Linked DNA regions of Homo sapiens. The gene in region 6 interacts genetically with the main gene of each other region. Each region holds a gene or a part of one and is shown on either strand. Other genes may lie near its edges.

Region 1 (3,500 bases), on a different chromosome or scaffold from region 6:
TAAATAATGTGCATATTTATGTGTAAAGGATTAAAATTATATATACCAAGGATGGTCAACTGGTTTCATCATAAACATCAACTCTAGTCTATCAAAAATAGCTGCCAAGAATGGCCAATTGAGAATATCCAAGCTCAAGGGAAAAGAATACTATGATGAATTATTGGTGTCATAAGGGAGAAAATAAAAAATGGTGACAGAAGTACCAAGTCCTTGTCATACATGAGATTCATCAAACTATTAGCAGTAGTTATTTATAGAATTAGGAATGATGGCAAGAAGGCTTTTATTTTCAACATTATACACTTCTACATTGTTTGCGTTTTTTAAAGACAAGCAAGTATTACTTTCAAGATCAGCAAAAAAAAAAAAACCCAGATACTTTAAATTTGTGAAAAATATTGCAACTTCATCATGACTACTTAATAGTAGTATAGTTCTATTTCATTACCTGCTATAAACTTATCATTTCCTTGATAATTTTTTAAAATAAAATTCTCACAAGTTTTTTTTTTGGGGGGGGCAGGGGGCATGGGCAGAGTCTAGCTCTGTCTCCCAGGCTGGAGTGCAGTGGCGCCATCTCGGCTCACTGCAACCTTTGCCTCCCAGGTTCCAGCAATTCTCCTGCCTCAGACTCCCCAGTAGCTGGGATTACAGGCATGTGCCACCATGCCTGGATAATTTTTCTATTTTTAGTAGAGACGGGGCTTCCTCATGTTGGTCAGGCTGGTCTCCAACTCCTGATCTCAGGTGATCTGCCCACCTCGGCCTCCCCAAAGTGCTCAGATTACAGGCATGAGCCACCATGGCTAGCCTACAATTTAAGTTTTTAAAATATATTTTTTAAACCCCTTACTTATCTGGATTAAGTATTCTTTAAATATTATTTCCAATATTTATGCCATAATACTATATTAATACTCTTTTCTAATCATCAGGAAAACATGAATATAAACTAAGAATTTTATAGGAAAAAGGAGTTTTAGCACTTTTAACACTTACAATTCAATTTCAACCATGCCTCTAGAACATCCTCTCTTCACAAAAAACCCAACCTAAGACATAAAAAAGAAAAAGTGAGCTGTGTAGTGACATTCCCAGGTTAACAATCAGAGATTTAGCAGTCATTATTATTTGTCAAATCAAGATTTTTTTCAGGTACCACTTGTATGTTCGCTCCTGTCACTTTCTAAGGTATCTCTCCCAGATCTGGGTTCCTCCATTGTTCCCTCCCACAAATAACAACAATAATAATATTAGGTAAGATTTATCGAACTCCTATGCACTCCATAGCCTCTTACCAACCTCGTGACAAAGCCAGTAAGTGCCAGAAAAACGATCTGAACCCAGGAAATCTTGGCTCCAGAGCCTGTGTACTTGTCCACTATATTAAACACCCAGACAGAAGAGAAAATGCCTGTGGGAAAACAGGTCCTATAGTATAACCACTAAGCACTCAAAGCTTCTTATTACCATTGAAGACTTCCTACAGTCGCGCAGGTTAAATATTAACAACCACGCTAATATTACCTATCCTGTTAATGATATAATTGCCACCAAGCATCGTTCTAAAAGGAGCAATATAATTGAAATTTACATGATAAAGCAGACATATCTGTGCTAGTTTCTATATGCTTATGAGTCTAAGTCCGAAAACAAAGTCTGAGCCTAAAAAAATCAGACTGGATCTTAAATCAGGCTATAAATAAGTGATAAATATTAAAAAAGGTAGAAAATATACCTCACAAATAGTAATCTTTTTAATAGTGATAATGACAGTGATGACAACAGCTAACATTTATCAAGCATTTACTATATACTGTTGTGCTAAGCACTAAACATGTATTTTTCTCATTTAATACTCATAAGCAACCTTGAAGTATACATTCATTTTATAGACAATAAAGCTGAGTCCCAGAAAGATGGGAGAAAAAAAAAAAAAAAAGCCTTATCTTGTAACCACCAAGTACAGCCTAATGCTTAAAAGTACAGGTTTTAACATCTACTATCTAGGTTCAAATCTCAACTCCACCACATACAAGTTGTTAAACATTGGACAGTTACTTAACCTCTCTGTTTCCTCACAGGAAAACCAAGGACATCCATGTAGGAATGACATCTGCTCATTAGCTTGCAAGAATTAAAAGACTTGGTACCAATGAGGAGGAAACAAAAATCAGGAGGCAGTTCTTATTATAAAGTATCCATACAGATGGTGTAGAGTATGTTTTTGTTAAATTTTTATATTAGCATTTAAACAAAAATACATTAAATATTCTTGCTGAGAACTTGGGCATCCCATAAATACATCTGTGTACCCAAAGGGCTGCAATCTGTCATCTAGGAAACACTGCACTCCACAGCCTCCCTTAAAAATCCTATCACTCAAGGATGAGATGTGTTTTCATGACAAAAATCAACATGAGAAAGTTAGTAAAAATTGTTATAGCCAATTCAGTCCTACTGTACAGCCCCTGGAGTACAATCCAACAGACGATTACAAAGAGATAGGGATTAAATGATCTGACAATTAAAAAACTATATATCAATATTCATAAAAATCTGAGTTGGTCCTTGGATGCTATCTGTTCCAACTCTCTCATCTTTGAAATGAAGAAAAACTGAAGTCCAGATAATTGCTCAAGGTCACAAGGCTAGTTATTAACAGAGAAAAGTATCTTCTACCTGATAAATGTCTTCCATATAGCACTAAACACACACACACACATTTTAAATAATTTATAATCTTAAGGGGAATTTGCTTCCATTTTGTAACCATCCATTAACTTTTAATTTTTTTTTTATTATTTCTATCTTAATAGAAATAGGATATGGTCTACGTGGTGTCCATTTTTTGAAATTTTTTGATACTTGCTTTATGACTCAGTATACAATTAACTTTTAGAAATGTTAACTTGTGCTTGAAAAGAATGCATACTCTCCAGTTGTTGAGTGCACTTTTTATAATATGTCCATTAGTTCAAGCTTAACTTCATTGTTCAAATCTTTTGTAGTCTAATTTTTTTATCTGACTGGTCTACTATTATTGATAGCTCTCCCAGTATGATTATGGATATGTTAACTGCTTGTTAGCATTCTGCAGATTTTGCCTATATATTTTGGAGCTAGATTATAATGTGAATTTGAGTTGGGAATCGAATTATCTTCCAGTGAATTAAAACTTTCGTCAGTGTTTAATGACCACTATTATCTATAAAATACTTTTTGCTCTAAAGTCTGTTTTTCCTAGTATTAATGCAGCTACATCTACTTTCTTTTGCATATTTGCCTGGCATGTATTTTTTTTCATCCTTTCACTCTCAACTTTTCTGTAGCACTTTATTTTAGATATGCTTATTAAAAACAAAAGAGAACTAAACATTGTTTCATTTCTCCATTCTAACAGACTTTATAATTTAATGAGAGTTTAGAGTTTAGATCATTTATAATCATTGTGATTATATCTGCACATATTTCTACCATCTTATTTTGTGATTTTT
Region 2 (3,500 bases), on a different chromosome or scaffold from region 6:
AAAGACAACCAAGAAGGTATACAAGCCACCTCTCATTTTACCTCCTATTTAGATGTTATACTGATAGATTTAGTGTAGATGGTAACATTTTAAAACTTGCATATCCTGACTGCATCAATCATTTTATTAGGACATCACAAGGCATATACATAGAAGCTTAATTCAATTTTATGGACTATTTTAAAACAAGCAGAACTAGAACAATACATCTATGCACAACAATACATCTATCCATGATTATAAAAAAAGTAAATCTAACCTTGGTAAAAAGTTTAACTGGATCATATCCAGTTGATTTAGCCCATTCCTTAGTAGAAATACGTTTAATGTCACCATCTTCATTAGATGCTCTAGCTCTGGCTTCGGCTTCCGTTGGTTCCCCTATAAAACGATCATTATTTTATTTTCAACCGTAATAAATGTAGAACTGAACTCTTTTCACTCACCTTTGGGAATAAAAAGAAAGTCACTCATGGAAATCCCCAAATGCAACACATTCTGAGTTCAAGGAATAAGAAAATAACACATTCATCAGCATCTTTTTGTATCCCAGTTTCTTTCTTTCTTGTTTTTGGAGACAAAGTCTCACTCTGTTGCCCAGGCTGGAGTGCAGTGTTAAGATCTCGGCTCACTGTAGCTTCTACCTCTTGGGCTCAAGCCATCTTCCCGTCTCAACCTCACAAGTAGTTGGGACTACAGGTATGCACCACCATGCCTGGCTAATTTTTATATTTTTTGTAGAGACAGGGTTTTGCCATGTTGGCCAGGCTGGTCTCAAACTCCTGACCTCATGCAATCCAGCTGCTTCAGCCTCCCAAAATGCTGGGACTACGGGCGTGAGCCACCTTGCCTGGCCTGTTGTAACTTAGTTTCTGAAAGCTACACATATAACAGTTCAAAGCACAGACCAGTCATGAGATCTAGGAACAACTCGCAGCTCTATTTACTAGACTTGTGAAATTTCTCTTAACCTTGATTTCCTCATCAGTAAAACGGAATCATATTTTTTTTGTAAAACATTGTTTTGGATAGGCACGGTTGCTTACGCCTGTCCCAGCACTTTGGGAGGCCAAGGCGGGTGGATCACCTCAGGTCAAGAGTTCGAGACCAGCCTGGCTAACATGGTGAAACCCTGTCTCTACTAAATATACAAAAATTAGCTGGGCGCGGTGGCAGGTGCCTGTAATCCCAGCTACTCAGGAGCCTGAGGCAGGAGAATCATTTGAACCCAGAAGGCGGAGGTTGCAGTGAGCCGAGATTATACCATTGTACTCCAGCCTGGGCAATAAGAGAGAAACTCCACCTCTGAGACAAAAAAAAAAAAAAAAAAAAAAAACAAAAAAAAAACACATGTTAAACACACATTACCTAGCACATATAGCAATTTTTTTCCCTTAAGCTACCAAAATTAAATCAACAAAATAAAGATAATAGTATCTGATAAAACATATGCCAAATAATTTACTCACAGGCAGCTTCAGGGTCAGCTCTGTCAGGAGATACTTCTTGATCAGCATCTTCTTCCCCAAACAACTGGCTATAATTTAAGAATAGTAAATACTTCTGTATAACAAAGCATTCTAAACAAACATGTAATTTAGAATATTCCAAATATTTAGCAGAGATAAAGACTGAACAACTGGCTGGGCGCAGTGGCTCACACCTTTAATCCCAACATTTTGGGAGGCTGAGGCAGGCAGATCACAAAGTCAGGAGTTCGAGACCAGCCTGACCAACATGGTGAAACCTCGTCTCTACCAAAAATATAAAAATTAGCCAGGCGTGGTAGCGCACGCCTGTAATCCCAGCTACTCGGGAAGCTGAGGCAGGAGAATCGCTTGAACCCAGGAGATGGAGGTTGCAGTGAGCCGAGACTGCACAACTGCACTCCGGCCTGGGCAACAGAGCAAGACTCCGTCTCAAAAAAAAAAAAAAAAAAGTGAATAACGGATAAATGACTATAAACTTAAAAGTTTAACACAATGTGCTTGGACAGCTTGCATCCCAATTTCAACAGCAATGTAAGCAAGGTTAAATTTTAGCAGACCTACATCCATTCCTATCAGCGAGGCTCTGCACATTTCAATGTTAAAACCTCTGCTCAAGAAACAGGTGAGTGGTTTTCACTTACAACCTGGATAACATTCTAACACCAGAATAATGTTTGTGTTTACACCTGCAGCTACCTGTTCAACAAACATTATTATATACCTCAGGTGCAGAGTCCCCATCTAGGGGATAGAAATTCAGCAATGAACAAGATTAACTTTTTTTCATGGTAGAATGGCTCTTTACTGCTGAACAGAGTGTTAACAAACAATTTGAAAGTATTAAGCTGAGATTCTCTTTTATTAATAAAGTTATCCTAAAAACTGTTTAATAACTCATGGATATAAAAGTTTCCAGTATTTCCTCAAGTATATGATTAATGAAAGTTATCTTACAGAAATCCTTTGTACAACCCCCCACCCAACTATAATTTCAAAGCTCTGATAGTCACTCCCAACAATGGCATGTTAACACTTCCTAAAATTAACGCTTTGCCAACTAGTGAGTGCAAAATAGTAGACAGCCGCTAATTTAAAATGGTCCACCAATGATTTTTCACCTTTACAACAGGTTTATTGAGGTTATATTAAAATGCATTTTTGGCTGGGCGTGGTGGCTCACATGTGTAATCCCAACACTTTGGGAGGCCGAGGCGGGTGGATCAACCGAAGTCAGGAGTTTGAGACCAGCCTGGCCAACAAGGTGAAACCCTGTATCTACTAAAATACAAATATTAGCTGGGCGTGGTGGCAGACGCCTGTAATCCCAGCCACTCGAGAGGCTGAGCAGGAGAATCGCTTGAACCCAGGAGGCAGAGATTGCAGTTGCACTGCACTCCAGCCTGGGCAACAAGAGCGAAACTCCATCTCAAAAAAACAACAACAAAAAAAGCATCATTTTTTACTTAATGGTATTTTTTATTTATGATGAGTTTATCGGGAAGTATCTGAGAAGCATCTGTAGCTTACTATGGTCTTATACTTAATTTTCCAAGTAAGTCTTATGATTAAAACATAACTTGCTTATTGCTTATTTAGGTTTCCCTTCGAGTGAAAAATGCTGCTCATATTAATTTTGCCAGATTATCTTTTTTGTGTGTGTGACAGGGTCTTACTGTCCCCAAGGCTAGTGTGCAGTGGTGTGATCACAGCTCACTGCAGCCTCGACCTCCTAGGCTCAAGTGATCCTCTCACCTCAGCCTCCCAAGTAGCTGGGACCACAGGCATGTGCCACCATGCCTTGCTAATTTTTAAATTTTTTGTAGTGATGGGGTTTCACTATGTTGCCCACACTGCTCTCAAACTGCTGGGCTCAAGCAATCCTCCTGCCTTGGCCTCCTAAAGAGCCGGGATTACAGGTGTGTGTCACTGCACCTGGCCACATTATCTTTTTTTTTTTTTTGTCTTTTTCTGAGACACAGTCTCGCTCTGTCCCCCAGGTTGGAGTGCAGT
Region 3 (3,500 bases), on a different chromosome or scaffold from region 6:
AAAAAGATTCAAACATGAATTGTCATTTTTGTCATCTTCAATTAAAATTGTTCCAAATTTTAAAATTTGTTTGACTTATGGTCAAATGTCTGCTGCCTCAAACTAGAATAAAACCCATCTTGAATTTCTATGACAGAATACTAAAAACAAAAGACTTTTTAAAAGTACTCTTGTGTTAACATTTATTTTAATTCTGTTCTTTTCTCTCTAGCTTTCTTGTTTTTCTCAAAGTACTCCTCATACCTTCATAAGACAGTCTTTGTAGTCAATGCTAAAGATAGAGAATAGAGAAAAACTCTGTGTTCAGGATTATATATAAAGAGAAGCAGTAACCTCAGAGTGAGTGAGTCATTTAAGTCTGAATCAAGGAAAGATAAGGATGTGGTTGGCCAGATCAGAGAAATATGCCTATTCTGTCTCTCCCAGGTGGGTTTAGCTAACTCAGGGAGAAACATTTTGGGGTGGCAGATATATAGAGCAGGCTCAGCACATCAAGATGGGGATGTTGGCTGAGGATAGAAGAGGCATTGAAAGGAGTCAGAGAGACAAATGGGTGTGAGAGGAGAGGCCAGAATGTAGAATAAGCACAGAAACATAAAAAACCAGATCAGACCAAGAGAAAAGAGAAAGTAAAGTGAATGCTGAAGAAGAGAAAAGTTCGAAAAGCCAACCTATACAAAGTAAGCAGCATCATATTACAGTGAAGGCAGCCACATAGCCTTTAAAAGACCACACAGAACAGATAGAAGATAGAGAATGACTAGGGACAGTTAATGGTTAAATTGAGATGAACAAGAAATGATACACAAAGTAACATCAATGAATGCAGAAAGAAATAGCAGAGAGAAACCAGTTATGTGCAATTGTAGCATAAGACTTCAGAATATAGCAAAAAAAAAAAAAAAATAGATGGATTGGATATATTTACAGAGAGATGCCTCATAGGTCTAGACTTAGAGTGGAGAGCAAATAACTGGTAGAAAGTAGGAGCAGTGAGGAGGCAAAAGAAGTGATTGAGACATGGAACAGGTAGAACAGGCACCGGGAAGAAAAAGGCTGTGGGAGAAAGTGGTTTACAAAGTAGCCCTGGGCACAGAGGTGGAATAATGAAAAGTATGCAAACGCAGTACCTGGAAGGCATGGATTAAATGACTGGATCAGTGTGGACTGGGCAACTGGAGATAACATTATTTTTTTGTTGCACAAGTAGCATGGCCCTATAGATATCCAGAGGCAGGACAGGATAGGTGGGATGAGCTAAGCCCAAGTTTACCTCCAGAGGATGGTCAGAAACACAGTGTAATTTAGGGAAAGATGTGATGGGCTAATCAGATACACGGACACAGACCTCAGCTAAGTATGAGTTAGAAAACCCCAGTAGATAAGAAGTGGACCCAGAACAAGTGAAGAGTAAGGGAGTAAGCAGAGATGAAGTAAGACAAAAGTGAAGGCAAAATAGTGAATGGCTTAGGAGGAAAGACTAATGAAGTATTTATTAGATTCAGAATGAGTCGGGGCTCCACACAGGAGATAATTCAGGATCCATGGAAAAGAGTGAGAAAAACGGACGAAAAATAAAGGAGAAACGTGAGACCAGGTCAGTCATGGACACTGAAAGAAACACCCAAAAGGTTTGGAGTGAGCAGGCAGTTCAAGAAACATGAAGATGGTTACAGGATAAAAAATAGCTGGACAGAGCGGGAGGTGGAGAAGCATACGTAGAAGTTGAAGTGGAAAGCATCAGTAGCAGGCAGAGAAAGGCATGAGCTCAGACAGAGAATCAGGCATATTCGAAAGAATTTGGAACAGATTGAGAGTGAAACAGGCAGATAAAATGGGGAACCATCAGAAATACTGAAAACTTGGCCTAACACAGAGGTTGGGGGGAACTTAAGTGACTAGAAGATAAGGAAATGATCAGACATGGAACAGGCTAACAGACAAAGAAGATCGTGGGTGGTAAAAGTAAAAAGCAAAATAAAATAGACTGAGAAAAACAGACCATTGTTACTGCAGAGTAGAATCAGTGGTTGGAGATGGATACAGAGTATCAGCATAGATGTGGAGATAGAAACATACAACTACATAGAAAAGCAGCTAGTTTGTGCAGAGGGTTATACCTTACTGCATGAGTGGTGGGAGAAGAACGTTGGTTGAGGTCAGGCTTTGTAGAATAGTTTTCTAGCTTTTTCCATGATCAGCACACAAAAGAAAGGAAAAAGCACACAGAACCACTTTGAATTGTTCTGGGTTGAGCTGAGATAACATTTTTAAAAATACAATGTGTTTTGTTTTTGTTTTTTAAACAAAATACTGGGAGAGATTTTTGTCAGACTAGTGGCTTTAAGTAGATGATGTCACCATATCACTTTCTCCTTCTCCAAGTATTAATAGATTTATTGAAACATCTTAAATCTATAAAACCTCAGTCATTTATATACATCAGAGGATCCCATGTTTGAGGAACTTAAATATAAATATGATGTGTTTTTCTAACGCATACAACTTTTACCCTGAGGTATAGAAGCACTTTCTTGGAATTGTTAAAGCATGTGTGCATGATTGCTAGGTAGCATTTACATGTAGTATTTCAGTAATTGCCTCCCTAGCTGCCCTTCTTTTCCAACACCAAGACATTAATTTTTCTTCTTCCTGTACTCCTCTATTCTTTTTATATAGCAAGGACCATGCAGCAACTACTGCTGGAGCTGCTAGCCTAGCAGGTGGGCACCACCGGGAAGCATGGGCCACCAAAGGTCCTTCCTATGAAGACTTATACACTCAGAATGTTGTCATTAACATGGATGACCAAGAAGATCTTCATCGAGCCTCACTGGAAGGGAAATCTGCCAAAGAGAGGCCTATTTGGTTGAGAGAAAGCACTGTCCAAGGGGCATATGGTTCTGAAGATATGAAAGAAGGTAAGAGTAGAAGTCAGTAAAATGGATGTGTCTTAGGTTCTGTAGAACATGAACTTGGCTTAGTGGGAAACTGCCTGGGCAATTCTGGATCTGTTCTACAGAACAATTAATTGCATTATATTAGGAAGTAAGAAATTGAACAATAAGATAAAAACCAACTAGTATACTTCCATTGCCCTTCAACTTAGTGAAAATAACAAATAGCCTTTTAAATTTTCATTTTTAGATTTGAAAAATTGTCATCTTTTTATCTTAATTTCTTGGAAAAATGCTATCTGTTGTTTTCAAGGTAGCCATACTCACCTTTCCTTTAATCTTATATTACCCTGACTTATATGCATTTAATTTTTCTGAATTGGGAGCCAAAACTATACGCTACCCCAAACTTTATGTTTTCTCTTCATAAATACCAAGGAGTGTATGCTACCTGAAATAGATACAAAGAGACCACATGAATAAAGGATTGAGCATTCTCACAGTCCAAGACGGTTAGCAGAACTTTGTTCTAGAGGATTTTGGAAATTTCTGAGGCATAAAGGGTTAAGAATTGCATACTAATCTTCGGAAGTTAGAGAACTG
Region 4 (3,500 bases), on a different chromosome or scaffold from region 6:
ATGAATGTAATATATATGTTCCTTAATAGAAAGGAAGTAAAAATTTCCTTGGACTCACAAGGACTTTCTGAATGCAGTCATGATGTAGGATTTCTTCTTCCAACATAATTGTTTGTGTTCTTTTGTATTCAGCAAAGCAGCTTTAAGAATCAGATACAGACAAAGACAAACGAACCATATGGATGGAATTCAAATTGTAAGTTAACATTACTATCATAGTACCTGTCAGTGAGAACATGTCCTCTTATTGATGGCAGAATTTCACTGAGCTATCCATAGCTCTCAGCTGATTTTGCCTATGATCAATGGCATGCACATATGTAAGACTATTAATTCTTCAAAAAGTGCATGAATTAAATGGACAAAAATGAGAACAGAACCTACAAACCTCACTAACTCCATAATTTAATTGCCAGGCATGGTGGCTCACGCCTGTAATCCCAGCACTTCAGGAGGCCTAGGTGGGAGGATAACCTGAGGTCAGGAGTTTGAGACCAACCTGGTGAAACCCCATCTCTACTAAAAATACAAAAATTGGCCGGGTGTCCTGGCGGGCACCTGTAATCCCAGCTACTAGGGAGGCTGAGGCAGGAGAAACGCTTGAACTTGGGAGTTGGAGGTTGCAGTGAGCTGAGATCACACCACTGCACTCCAGCCTGGGCAACAGAGTGAGACTCCATCTAAAAAAAAAAAAAAAGTCCCAACAAATTAAAAAACTGTCACAGGGAGATGTAACAGATAAACCCAGGAATAAAGGCACTACATAGTTCCAGGCCTCACTCTACACGCACTAAAATTACTTCAAGATTTACACTATGAATTTTGATTTCTGTCTAGTAGAACACAAAAAGACAAAGGTAGATTATCAATATATGAAAATCAATAGCATTTTCTTGTATCAGCACTAATCTACTTAAAAAATAGTATACCATTCACAGTATTTTTATAAACTACAATATTTTACTCAAAGTCATAAGTGAAAGACCATTCCATGTTCTCAGATAAAATGTCCTAATATTATAAAGATATCAATTTTCCTCAAAATAAATCTGTAAGTCAAAGTTCTACTGGTATTGTTTTTAGAAACTCAAACTAACTCTAAAATACATAGGAAAGAATAAAAATACATAAATAGCTGAGCCAAACTTTGAAAATGGGCAAAGATGAGAGAAAGTGCTCTACCAGATATTTAACATCACTAGCTAATTTGGGAAATGCAAATTAAGACCACACTGAGATATCATCACACATCAGAACAGTTAAAAAAAAAAAAAATAGTGGCCGGGCGCAGTGGCTCACATCTATAATCCTAGCACTTTGGGAGGCTGAGGCGGGCAGATTGCCTGAGCTCAGGAGTTCGAGACCAGCTTGGGCAACATGGTAAAACCCCATCTCTACTAAAATGCAAAAAATTAACTAGGTGTGGTGGCATGCGCTTGTAGTCCCAGCTACTCGGGAGGCTGAGGCAGGAGAATTGCTTGAATCTGGGAGGCGGAGGTTGCACTGAGCCAAGATTGCGCCACTGCACTCCAGCCTGGGTGACAGAGCAAGACTCCATCTCCAAAAAAAAAAAAAAAAACAGTGACAGTATCAAATGCTAGTGGAAGACGATGCAAAGAAATGCAATCTCTCATACATTCCTGGTAGAAATGTAAAATGGTACAACCACTCCAGAAAACACTTTGGGAGTTACTTCAAAAACTAAACATACACTTACCATACCATCCAGCAACCATGTCCCTGGGCATTTATCCCCCAAAAAATGAAAATTTAAATCCATACGCACACACACACACAAAACTGTACAAGAATGTTCACAGCAGCTTTATCTGTAACAGCCAAAAATTAAAAACAGCCCAGATATGCAGGTGAATGGTTAAACTTGGATACATACGTACCATGGAATACTACTCAACAATTAAGAAGTACAAACTATTGATAAATGCAACAATTTGGATGAACCTCAAGAACTGTCTCATTCAACAATGTTGATGAATCTCAAGAACTGTCTCATTCAACAATTTGGATGAATCTCAATTTCAAAAGATTACATGCTATAGGATTCCATTTATATAGCACTCTGGTAATGACAAAATTATAGAGATAGAAACTGATTAAACTGATTAAGGGATGGTGAGGGTAAGGGAGGTGGATGAAACTAGAAAGAGGTAACATGAAGAAAATCTTTGTAGTGATAGAATAGTTCCATATCTTCTTCCTCTTTTTTTTTTTTTTTTTTTGAGACAGGGTCTTACTCTGTCCCAGGCTAGAGTGCAGTGGCATAATCACAGCTCACTGCAGCTTCAACCTTCCCAGGCTTAGGTGATCCTCCCACCTCAGCCCCCCAAGTAGCTGGGACTACAGGCATGCACAACCACACCAGACTAATTTTCGTATTTTTTGCCAGAGACGGGGTTTTGACATGTTGCTGGTCTCAAACTCCTGGGCTCAAGCAATCTGCCTACCTCAGCCTCCCAAAGTGCTGGGACTACGGGCATGGTCAACCACATCAGCCTAGCTCTGTATCTTGATTGCAGAGGTAGTTGCAGGAATCCACACAGGTGATAAAATGGCACAGAACTATACACAGGCATTGTACAAAATCAATTTATTGGTTTTGATACTGTACTACAGTGGTATAAATTGTAACTATTGAGGGAAGTTCCTTGGGTGAAGCTGCATAAAATGTAACCACTGGAGGAAACCAGACCTCTCTTTACTATTTGTGCAACTTCCTATGAACCTATAATTATATCAAAATAAAGTTAAAACAAAATAAATGGGAAGAGTTATTTATATAGGAGGAAAAAACATACTACTACAAAACCATAGAGTTAAAACAGTATAGTGTTAGAGCAAGAACAGACAAACCAAAGGAAAGGACTCAATATTCAGAGTATATATGAGCACTTAATACACAGTGTGACACCATATCTATGGGAAAAGGGAAGAAAGATGCCAGGAAAACTGGCACAGTACATGGAAAATAAACTGGATCACAAACTTGTGACACATAAAAAGTTAAACTCTGCATGTATTAAAGACCAATAAGTTTAAAAGAAAACTATGAATTAGCAGTACATAACATAGCAGAGTAACTTTGTGGCACAGCACTGGGGAAAGATTTCTTAAACAAAACCTCCAAAATACAACCATATAGCCAAAAGATTTTTTAATTTGATTATATCAAAATATAAGATTTCTGTTCAATGAAGAACATCATGAGAAAGATTACAGACAAATGACAGATTAGGAACAGATACACTTGTAATACTTAAATGATTAGTATCTATGGAATACAAGAAATGTCCGCAAATCAACAAGAAAGAACTGAAACCCCAAAATAAAAATGGGTGAAGGGATGAACAGGCAATTTCACAAACAAAAAATTAAAAAAGATAAAACACACATGAAGAAATACTCAGATTCGGCAGGGCACGCTGGCTCATGCCTGTAATCCCAGCACTTTGGGAGGCTGAGGCAGGCAGATCACAAGGTCA
Region 5 (3,500 bases), on a different chromosome or scaffold from region 6:
GTGTCTTTCTAGGAAATTCAGTTCATGAAGATAAGAAGTTTCTTGACAAATACATGCCCCAGTTCATGAAACATCTTCATTATAGAATAATTGATGTGAGCACTGTTAAAGAACTGTGCAGGTAAGGGCTATATTTAGGATCCATTAAATTACCTCATTTAGCATGTTTTAATTGAGAATTTGTGGAAAGTAATTGGATAGAGCTGTAGAACTAAGGCTACCAAGTGGGTTCATATCTTCCTCATCCCATTCTTGCTTGTATAGGACCTTAACTTACCCTGGACTGGTGAGAATTGGGAGCAACAACGTCAGACATGTTCCCAGTAAATAAGCCAATGCCTGGCACAAAATAAGTGCTCAATACATTTTCTGGATTAACTAATATTATGTGGAAGTCTTGTGACTGGGAACATATAGATGAAAAGCTCTTAAGTACTTTAGAAAATAGTGGATCGACATATGTGTAAAAAAACGCACCCTGAAAATATACTCTATGATGACTCCTATAGTGAAAATGTGCGTATGGACTAGTGAGGTCACAAGGGAAGCAGCATCTAACTGTGCTGGAGCAAGAGGAATGGGGAGTCAGAGAAACCTTTACATAGCAAGGAAATAGCTTTGAAATTGAGATGTGAAGAAGAGTGGAAGTCTTGCAGGCATTTTATTGAGGAGAGAGCATTCAGAGAGAGCAGACAGAAGTATAAGAATGTGAGGGAGCAGGAAGCTAAGGCAAAATGTGTTAAATGAATCCCAAAGCATTCATTAATGCTGGAGTGCAAAGCATGAGGTTGGAGAAGGTGGGAGGTGGTTCTAGGGCCTCAAGAGCTTGCACACCATGCCAGTGAAGTTCACTATGATCTTGCAAGGAATGGGGTTCCTTTGAGAAAGTGTAGGTAGAAGAGTGAGTGATAACGATCGTTCTGATTCGAAGGTGGCAAGAAAAGTGGTAGAAAGATAGAAAGGAGGCTTTTTTTTTTTTTTTTTTTTTTTGAGACGGAGTCTCGTTCTGTCGCCCAGGCGGGAGTGCTGTGGCGCGATCTCCGCTCACTGCAAGCTCCGCCTTCCGGATTCACGCCATTCTCCTGCCTCAGCCTCCCGAGTAGCTGGGACTACAGGCGCCCGCCACTGCGCCCGGCTAATTTTTTGTATTTTTAGTAGAGACGGGGTTTCACCGTGGTCTCGATCTCCTGACCTCGTGATCCGCCTGCCTCGGCCTCCCAAAGTGCTGGGATTACAGGCGTGAGCCACCGCGCCCGGCCTGAAAGGAGGCTTTTCTGCCATCTTGGGGAGAAGAATGAACTGGAGAAAGGGCAGGGCATGGAAATGAGGGGCTTGTATGATAAAAATGTGAGAGGGTCAGTTGACAGACACTCAGTGTTCGAATGAGGTGGTGTGAAAAGGAAGAGGTATAATGTTATTCTGATGTTTGTAGTTTGAGCAGCTTTGGTGGATGATGGCAGTGTTCAAATAAAAAGGAGAAGAAGAAGAGTAGATATGGTGGATGGGGCAGGGGAGGTGTTGACAATGGTGGGTGTGTTTTGATGTATGTTGAATTAGAAGTGTCTGGTAGATTTTTAGATGGAGATATCTAGTGGGCAGTTGCATATCCATGACAGAAACTCTAGGGAGGGCTGGGCTGGATTTCCAGATTTAGCAATCTTACACACTGATGAGCTTGCTCATAGAAAATATATAGAAGAAAGAGAGGAGAGGGTAGAAGATAGAGGCCCCGGCAAAGAAGCAACTTGAGAATCATGACTCAAATGCCATTTTCAATGTTAATGGATTACTTGAAGGAGGTAATTGTTCAGTATATTTGAGACAGCTTCCTTTGAGAGTTCCATTTCTGCTGTGTATAGACGCTGGTATCCAGAAGAATATGAATTTGCACCAAAGAAGGCTGCTTCTCATAGGTAAGTTTGAGTTCTACCAAGCGTTTTCCAGTCTGACACACACTTAACTCCCAAATTCCTGACTGCTTGAAATAATGTCCCTTAACTCTTTTTTCTCGGGGAAAAGATAAAGTTCAACTAGCATAAACATAACATTCTTTTACTGTTAGGAATTCTGGTCAGGATTCCAGTGTTCCATTCTGAGAGGGTTATATAGCCTTTATTGCTGTTTCAAAACTCTTAGATAGCTTGGTTTATAGGAATGATGAAACAATCTGTAATCTTTCTAGTAATGAACCGTGTTAACTTTCTTCCCACAGAAGATATGGACTTGCAGCCTTTTGAAATTAGAACACTTTTTGTGTGCAATTCTATAATACAGTTGCCTACTTTGACACTTGTTATAGTTTTTCTGATTGTTTCTCTTATGTCTGTAGCCTTAGGTACAAGTAGACAAGGAATTTAAAGATCTTGTATATTCATGTGTCCTGTACTGGTTCTTTTCTTTTTGATTTTGTAGTCTTTCAGGAGAAACATGAAACCTGATGGGAGGTTTAGCAGCTGGCTTCTAAGGGTAGCATTTATTAAACCATTTACTGAACCCCTATGATGTACCTTGCACAGTTATAGGCAAATAGAGAAAGACCAATCCCTAAAGAGTCTGGCATTCTTACATTATTTTATTGAGTGTATGTAGACTGTAGCACAGGCATACAGGCCTAGACTACCTTATCTGACACAACTGGGGTATGTTTTGATTTCAGAATTTTTCAGATTTTAGAAAGGTGTTACTACATCTGTATTGTTTATTATCTTGTAGCATCCCTAACAAGGTTTGAGAAGCAGCCCATAATAAAACACATAGGTATTCTGCAGTGAAACGTGTATATTCACACCAAATGGCATAAGTAATGATGACTGTCAATAGCCTCACATTAAGATTGCTCAGGTTTTGCTACATAATAGGTTCTGTAAGTACTGTGGGTTTTCAGGTGTGTTTTGGATTTCAGTTTTGTGGATAAGATATTGTGTGCCTTTATTTAGCCAGAGGCTATAATTTTGGCAGCTTCGGCTCTGACATATATCCAAGTCCTGGAAAGAAAGCAGATGGTTGCCTTAGCCACACAAATAATTGTCATAAAACTCTTGCACTAAAATTTGTGCAGGGAATTCTCTAGAAGTGGCCCTTGGCCCATGATTCAGAGTTTATTGATTTACTTGCACACTGTTCTAATAATCTTGGTTACCTGATTTCTCAGAATACAACAGATGAGAAACAACATATTGGAAGAAAAGAAAGGCTCTTAGATGGAGGCAGGCTGCCACTGATTATAGCACAAATCACCATGAGAGAGGAGGTAGATCCTCTGGTATGGTTAGGTACTGTTTGATAATTGATGTTTATTATGATGACTGAGTCATGACTTATGTTCAAGTGTGTCAGTCTGTTTTGTTGAGGGACATCATCAAGTATTGGGCAATGTTTCTCAAACTGTGTTCCATGAACTGTTTATAAGTATTCTACAAATGTGGTCGATTAAGTTTTAGAAATACTAAAATTTATTAATTTTAGAAAATTAATAAATTAGAAATATAGGACAGCTTCCT
Region 6 (2,763 bases):
TTGGGATAAGAAAGTTCAAGAGATGGACAATAGTGATAGTTACAATACAATAAGAATATTCTGAATGTCACTGAACTATGAAACTTAAAAATGGTTAAAAAGGGCAGGGCATTGTAGCTCATGCCTATAATCCCAGCACTTTGGGAGGTTGAGGCAGGCAGATCATCTGAGGTCAGGAGTTTGAGACCAGCCTGGCCAACATGGTGAAGCCCCGCCTCTACTAAAAATACAAAAAATTAGCCAGGTATGGTGGCAGGTGCCTGTAATCCCAGCTACTCGGGAGGCTGAGGCAGGAGAATCATTTGAACCCAGGAGGCGGAGGCTGCATTGAGCCAAGATCATGCCAATGCACTCCAGCCTGGGTGACAGAGTGAGACTCCATCTCAAAAAAAAAAAAAAAAAAAGGTTAAAATGGTAAATTTTATGTTCTGTATCTTTTGTCCTATAGAAACACAAGTTGAATTAACAAAAGCATATATTAAAACAAAAGTACAGGCCAATACCACCAAAATGGTTTTATTTTTGTCATTGACAACAAGCACAACACTGCAATTGTATCATTATTTTGTTTAGTTTCTTAAATATTACTTAAGTATGCATTAAAAATATGTTTACATTTTAAAAATGTGACACTTTAAAGAAGTCCTCTGTAAACACGATCCCTTCTCAATATATTTTCCTGCTTTGTTTCATACATAAATAACTTAATCTACAAAGTCATAAATAATACTATCAACTCTTATGGCCTGGAAGTATATACAAATTTTGGAGTCTGACAAAAGTGTTCTTTATGATTTTATAAATAACACATAGTATTTGTAGTGTTGATTATAAATCAAATGACTTTTTACAAATTCCTACTGTCTCCTCAACCTGTTCTACCAGTAACAGATCTTCCAGTTTACTTGGTTGGTAAAGATGCCAGGCATTTAAAAAGTCAAAATGGTCAAAATTCTATATTAAAAAAAAAAAAAGGCAGAGAAGGTTGCTATTTAAATATTACCAAATCTTAATAAAACCACTTCAGCTTGTCTGAAAAACAAAAAATGCTAGTAAAGAGTGAATGCTTGTACAATCATATAAATGGTACTCAATAAAATCTAAAATTTAAGAAATAATAAAATCAGATGAAATCCATATTAGTTTTGCAAAAAAACTCCACTGAGATTCTATTACAGGAACAGAATCAATACTATTCTACATTTTCTAAAATTTATTTCTAATCTTCACTTTGATGAGTTAAAATTTTAAAGGCAAGAATAATGACAAACAAAACAATTCTGAAAAGCCATACTTATAATCCTTGACATCAAGATGTTAAAAAGGTTTTTTAAAAAAAGCCATACTTGAGATTCCTAATATAGAACATTTGATTGTTTAGTTTTGTTTAATGACTGGAAATCCTTATTTCTTCAAAAAATAGCAAGTATCCTTTGAAACACATCACCCATCTAATAAGATTGTTTAGTTTTGTTTAATGACTGGAAATCCTTATTTCTTCAAAAAATAGCAAGTATCTTTTGAAACACATCACCCATCTAATAATTTATTAAATAACCATTCAAGATTTATTAGGTAAGCACTAAAATTACTTTTATGTAATAAAAGTAAATAGGAATTTTGCATGTTTGTTGTTTCATTTTACAAATTTTTTTATTCCGTTATTTATAGGATATAAAACTTTAAGAAAACATTCTCAACTAACATTCTCATTAGATGTAAATGATTCAAATTACAAATAATACTAACCTAAGCATTGTCATTACTTTTAAAATCCAAGTTTCTCAAAGTTTGATTTTTTTACTCAATACAAAAATGACCTGGTTCACACTATTAGCTGCCCAACAAACTGTTTGAAAAACTAAATATTCTTTGTTCAAGAGTAGATTACAAGAAATGTTTTCCATGCTCTTATTTCAAAAAACAAGATTCTGATATACATAATGAATCTAAATAAAAATTCACAAGTGGTGGCTGAAATCCTGTCAACTTTCAGCCCAATACAATATAAATCCACAGTTATAATGCATAAACAATTCAAAATTAAAGTTTATAATGGAAATGTCAACAAGTCATAACTACTACACATTACTACTGATGGGTTCCACTATACTTCAACCTGGCACAGCAGATGTGCACATCTGATAGACAGACTGCTTAGAAAATTAAAGCTATCAGAGCTATAAATAAGGAATACATAAATATGAACATAGCAATGCCAAAGCATTAGAGCTGTTAAAAAAAGTGAATAAGATGTGATGTAAACACATCTGATAGTTCTCTCTGTAAGCCACTTTCCACTGATTTATAAAGCTATGGTTTTATAATTCTTTTAAAAAGTAAAATTTTTCTACACTGCTGCATGCAGTAATTTCATTGTACATTCTCAACTACAATGCAATCTTCAAACCCTCTTGCAGAGCTTGACATATCTCATCAGAATTTCTCCAGAAAGTCAGCTTGTCATATTTTCAGCAGCCTAGAACAAGAAAGTAAGATTCATTACAATAAAACCATGGAAAAAGAGGCATCATGAAGATAAATTTGTCAATACTGCACTGTCATTAACAAACAACTATTCCCCATAAAACAGAACCACTTTTATCACAGTAATGCAGTGCTTTTCATGTTTTGCTATACATCAGGACTACCTTTTGAATGTACAGTTAACAGTCCACAGGCTAACAGTGGAAAATAGTTATATCACCTAAAATAATAGTTAAGAGCACAAAAAACATACTGCTACTTGAAACATTAACCTAT
Region 7 (3,500 bases), on a different chromosome or scaffold from region 6:
TAGATTTGCAATGTTTATTCTGAATTAACTAAAAAACCTTTAAAAAACATGTACTGGCAACAAAGATTTCTTGCTAATTTCCTTCCCCCTGTAAAGTATTAAGGAAATCTTAAACCTATATTTTAGGATTTGCTTTTTAAAATAAATAATGCTAGAGGCCTATGGAGAAGAATTATCAGAAGATACAGTAAGCTCCAAAATATCTCTAATCAGAACGAAAAGGAGTACACAGACTAGCATTAGCAGTAAAACTCCAATGGGACTGTGAGTAGTATCTAGTAAGATGTCACAGAGTACTGGGTGTCGCTTTAAATTCTTATCTGAATTAACTCATTTTTACAACCCTGTGAGTAGGTACAATTATCCTCACTTCCCACCACCCCCACCACCGACCCCTGCTTTTTTTTGAGACAGAATCTCACTCTGTAACTCAGTCTGGAGTGCAGTGGTGCCATCTTGGCTCACTGCAACCTCTGCCACCTGGGTTCACATGATTCTCCTGCCTCAGCCTCCTGAGTAGGTAAGACTATAGGTGTGTGCCACCACGTCCAGCTAATGTTTTGTATTTTTAGTAGAGACCAGGTTTCACTATGTTGGCCAGGTTGGTCTTGAACTCCTGACCCTCAAGTGATCCAGCCGCCTCGGCCGCCCAAAGTGCTGGGATTACAGGCGTGAGCCACCGCACCTGGCCTCCTTTTTCATAAATGAGAAACCAAGGCTTTAAAAAGTGAAGCAAGTTATTAGCTAGGTAATGCTGGACTGGAGATAGATTTTAAATACTCCTGACTCCAGAGTCCTCACTGTTAATCACTAAGTTAGAAACCTAAACTACAATTTTTGGCAAGGGAAATAAATTCCAAAGTAGGAATGCTTTATACAATTAACATCATATTCTTCCTCTGAACAGTAAGGTCACAATCTGGTTTATTAAAAATGTACAAGATTCCCATTTTTAAAAATGCTTAACCAAATTTAAAAATTCTAAAATTTAATTTTTTCTGAAAACTCTTTGTCCATGCTTCCTAATTAAATAAGCTCTAAGCTAGTCTACTGCAAAATGTAGCAGAAGAGACTATAACATTTATATTAACACTGGAAAATAACTTAAAAAGGAACAAAATTTCTCACAATTATCATATCTGGGTGGGACAGGCTTTGTTTATACCATTCCCCCCAACAAAAATCACTCTGGTTTGTGAACATTAAGGAATCCATCAACTTGCATGCAATTTTCCAACTCATCAAATAGTAGGCCAGGTGCCAGTGGCTCATGCCTGTAATCCCAGCACTTTGGGAGGCTGAGGCAGGCGGGCCACAATGTCAAGAGATCAAGACCATCCTGACCAACATTGTGAAACCCCGTCTCCACCAAAAAAAAAAAATACAAAAATTAGCTGGGCGTGGTGGCGCGCACCTGTAGTCCCAGCTACTCGGGAGGCTGAGGCAGGAGAATCGCTTGAACCCTGGCGACAGTGCAAGACTCTATCTCCAAAAGAAAAAAAAAAAAAAAGCAATAATGCCTTCTTTATGGAAAGCTGTGTGTCGATGGCTGTTAACTGGCACTTGAAAATGAGACAATTAAATGTTAAATACTTTAATAAAATGCCTAGTCATTGGCACAGATGAATCTTTTAACCTATTGTTATGGTCAATGAATGTAGGTTTATATAAGAACAGAAGCTGTGGGTCTGGGCAGTGAAATCAGAAATGTCTTCAGTGATAACTTCTCTTACTGATCAGGAATACCTCTTGTCATTATAATAACTGACAGTTTAAATGTTCTTTATGTCTCTAAGCAAACAAGAAAATACTGCATAATCAAAAGGGCATTATTTTCATCTTACAAAAAGCTTATTTAAAAAACATACAGATCAGAAAACTGGAAAAATCTGACTCTGACTTTAAGTATACGAAATACAAATTTTCATGCCTACATTTTATTATTAATGCATGGTCAGTTTGCTCTGGGTTTAGTCATGTTACAAAGTAGAATCTTATTTATTCCATTTCCACCTACGCTGTTTAAAAAGAATTAATTTAAAAAAGTCCTAGGTCACTGCCATGTAAATTTAATAGAAACTATGAGCACACAACCATCTACAAACCAAAAACGGACCCAGTCTCTGGTCTGAGGAGTAACGGCCCAAATCACAGGATGTGCTGTGGCAGTGGGTTACCTCTTTGGAAACAATACCTTATTTCTCCTGAATATTCAAAGAACAAAAAGGACATAACCAAAGTCACCTGGGGAAAATAGTTTTAAATCCTAAATTTGATTCTGAAAGTTTTTCAGAGGCCAAAAAATTTTCAACATTAGAAACAAACAAATAGTTACAGGTTTTCAAGCTATGATAATTTACGGTTTTTAACACTCTGAAACTACTAAAAAACCATAAATTATCATTAACCTCTCTTCTATATTTCTGGAAATACTGTAGGTGGGAAGAATTATCTAGGTAATAATTAAAGCTTTCCCCCTATGTTGCTTTAATATAGCAAATATTGTATTAAAAATCAGTTTAGTATGCTAGATATGGTTTCTAGTTTACATTTTAAAGTCTAATGCAGCCGGGCACAGTTGCTCATGCCTGTAATATCACTCCTTGGGGAGGCTGAGGAAGGAGGATCACTTGAGCCCAGGAGTTTGAGACCAGCCTGGGTAATATAGCAAGACCCTGTCTCTAAAATTTTTTTTTTATAAAGTCTAGTACAAAGTTAGAAAAGTTATGTTATGTCATTAATGACATACTTGTATATCATTAACATGTCACTTGTAACTGTTTTACTCTGCTCAATTTTCATATTGTTGAAAAAACCTCAACACCTTTTAAATCTCCCTTGAAATTTATAATTTATCTCACACGTAGACATTAAAATTCATATCATTCTACTCCTGGCAAATTTAAGAACATGCTTGTAATTAAAAATAAAACTCTATCCTGACTTCTTCAATCTAGTTGAAAAGGGAGTTGCTGCATATCTAATAATGCTGTGCTCAGCAAGCACTTGATCCTCACAAGGAGTCTTATGAACTAGATTTGTCTGAATTTTACAAATTAGCAAACTAAAGTTTAGCAATACAAAGCTGCCTTGTCAAAGGGAGCTAGCAAATGGTAGACCCAGGATTCAAACCCAGCTATGTCTAATTCTGCCACTCCAGCTAGCTCTTAACCACAGCCTCCCAAGACAAGTAAAACATGATCCTTTGCTTCAAGTTTACTTCCCACTTACTGGGAGTAAGTATGACATCCCAAAAGCGTCAGGATTACATCCTGAATGTTTCAGTAAGGTTCTTTTATAAAACCATAAAGACAACCATTAATTTTTAATCAATGCAGAATATAGCTCTGTAATATAAATAAGGGAAATAGAAAATTATCAATAATTTTAGAAAGCTATTCCTCAAATAACAACACAAGTGACGTGCATTTATATAACCAATATTTACTCAGCACTAATTATGTACCAGAGATGCAGCAGTGAACAAACACAAAGCAACT

Evidence for each region.
Region 1: changes in MZT1 (region 6) and SMC5 together harm fitness less than expected from each alone (positive genetic interaction), as found in Homo sapiens cells (one large-scale study listed by BioGRID).
Region 2: changes in MZT1 (region 6) and UBA2 together harm fitness less than expected from each alone (positive genetic interaction), as found in Homo sapiens cells (one large-scale study listed by BioGRID).
Region 3: changes in MZT1 (region 6) and GTF2E1 together harm fitness less than expected from each alone (positive genetic interaction), as found in Homo sapiens cells (one large-scale study listed by BioGRID).
Region 4: changes in MZT1 (region 6) and WDR7 together harm fitness less than expected from each alone (positive genetic interaction), as found in Homo sapiens cells (one large-scale study listed by BioGRID).
Region 5: changes in MZT1 (region 6) and REXO2 together harm fitness less than expected from each alone (positive genetic interaction), as found in Homo sapiens cells (one large-scale study listed by BioGRID).
Region 7: changes in MZT1 (region 6) and ERH together harm fitness less than expected from each alone (positive genetic interaction), as found in Homo sapiens cells (one large-scale study listed by BioGRID).

The regions. Positions count from the first base shown.
Region 1 is NC_000009.12:70,265,478-70,268,977, reverse strand, and holds part of SMC5 (structural maintenance of chromosomes protein 5), read right to left. Parts: intron 1,056-3,500; coding exon 1,003-1,055; intron 360-1,002; exon of another isoform or gene 1-359. UniProt on the Homo sapiens protein: Core component of the SMC5-SMC6 complex, a complex involved in repair of DNA double-strand breaks by homologous recombination.
Region 2 is NC_000019.10:34,441,881-34,445,380, reverse strand, and holds part of UBA2 (SUMO-activating enzyme subunit 2), read right to left. Parts: intron 1,538-3,500; coding exon 1,470-1,537; intron 382-1,469; coding exon 260-381; intron 1-259. UniProt on the Homo sapiens protein: The heterodimer acts as an E1 ligase for SUMO1, SUMO2, SUMO3, and probably SUMO4. It mediates ATP-dependent activation of SUMO proteins followed by formation of a thioester bond between a SUMO protein and a conserved active site cysteine residue on UBA2/SAE2.
Region 3 is NC_000003.12:120,773,744-120,777,243, forward strand, and holds part of GTF2E1 (general transcription factor IIE subunit 1), read left to right. Parts: intron 1-2,679; coding exon 2,680-2,921; intron 2,922-3,500.
Region 4 is NC_000018.10:56,654,359-56,657,858, reverse strand, and holds part of WDR7 (WD repeat-containing protein 7), read right to left. Parts: intron 1-3,500.
Region 5 is NC_000011.10:114,445,967-114,449,466, forward strand, and holds part of REXO2 (oligoribonuclease, mitochondrial precursor), read left to right. Parts: intron 1-12; coding exon 13-121; intron 122-1,859; coding exon 1,860-1,913; intron 1,914-3,500. UniProt on the Homo sapiens protein: 3'-to-5'exoribonuclease that preferentially degrades DNA and RNA oligonucleotides composed of only two nucleotides. Binds and degrades longer oligonucleotides with a lower affinity.
Region 6 is NC_000013.11:72,707,867-72,710,629, forward strand, and holds the end of MZT1 (mitotic-spindle organizing protein 1), read right to left. Parts: intron 2,480-2,763; coding exon 2,456-2,479; 3' UTR 501-2,455; downstream 1-500. UniProt on the Homo sapiens protein: Required for the recruitment and the assembly of the gamma-tubulin ring complex (gTuRC) at the centrosome.
Region 7 is NC_000014.9:69,381,300-69,384,799, forward strand, and holds part of ERH (enhancer of rudimentary homolog), read right to left. Parts: intron 1-3,500. UniProt on the Homo sapiens protein: May have a role in the cell cycle.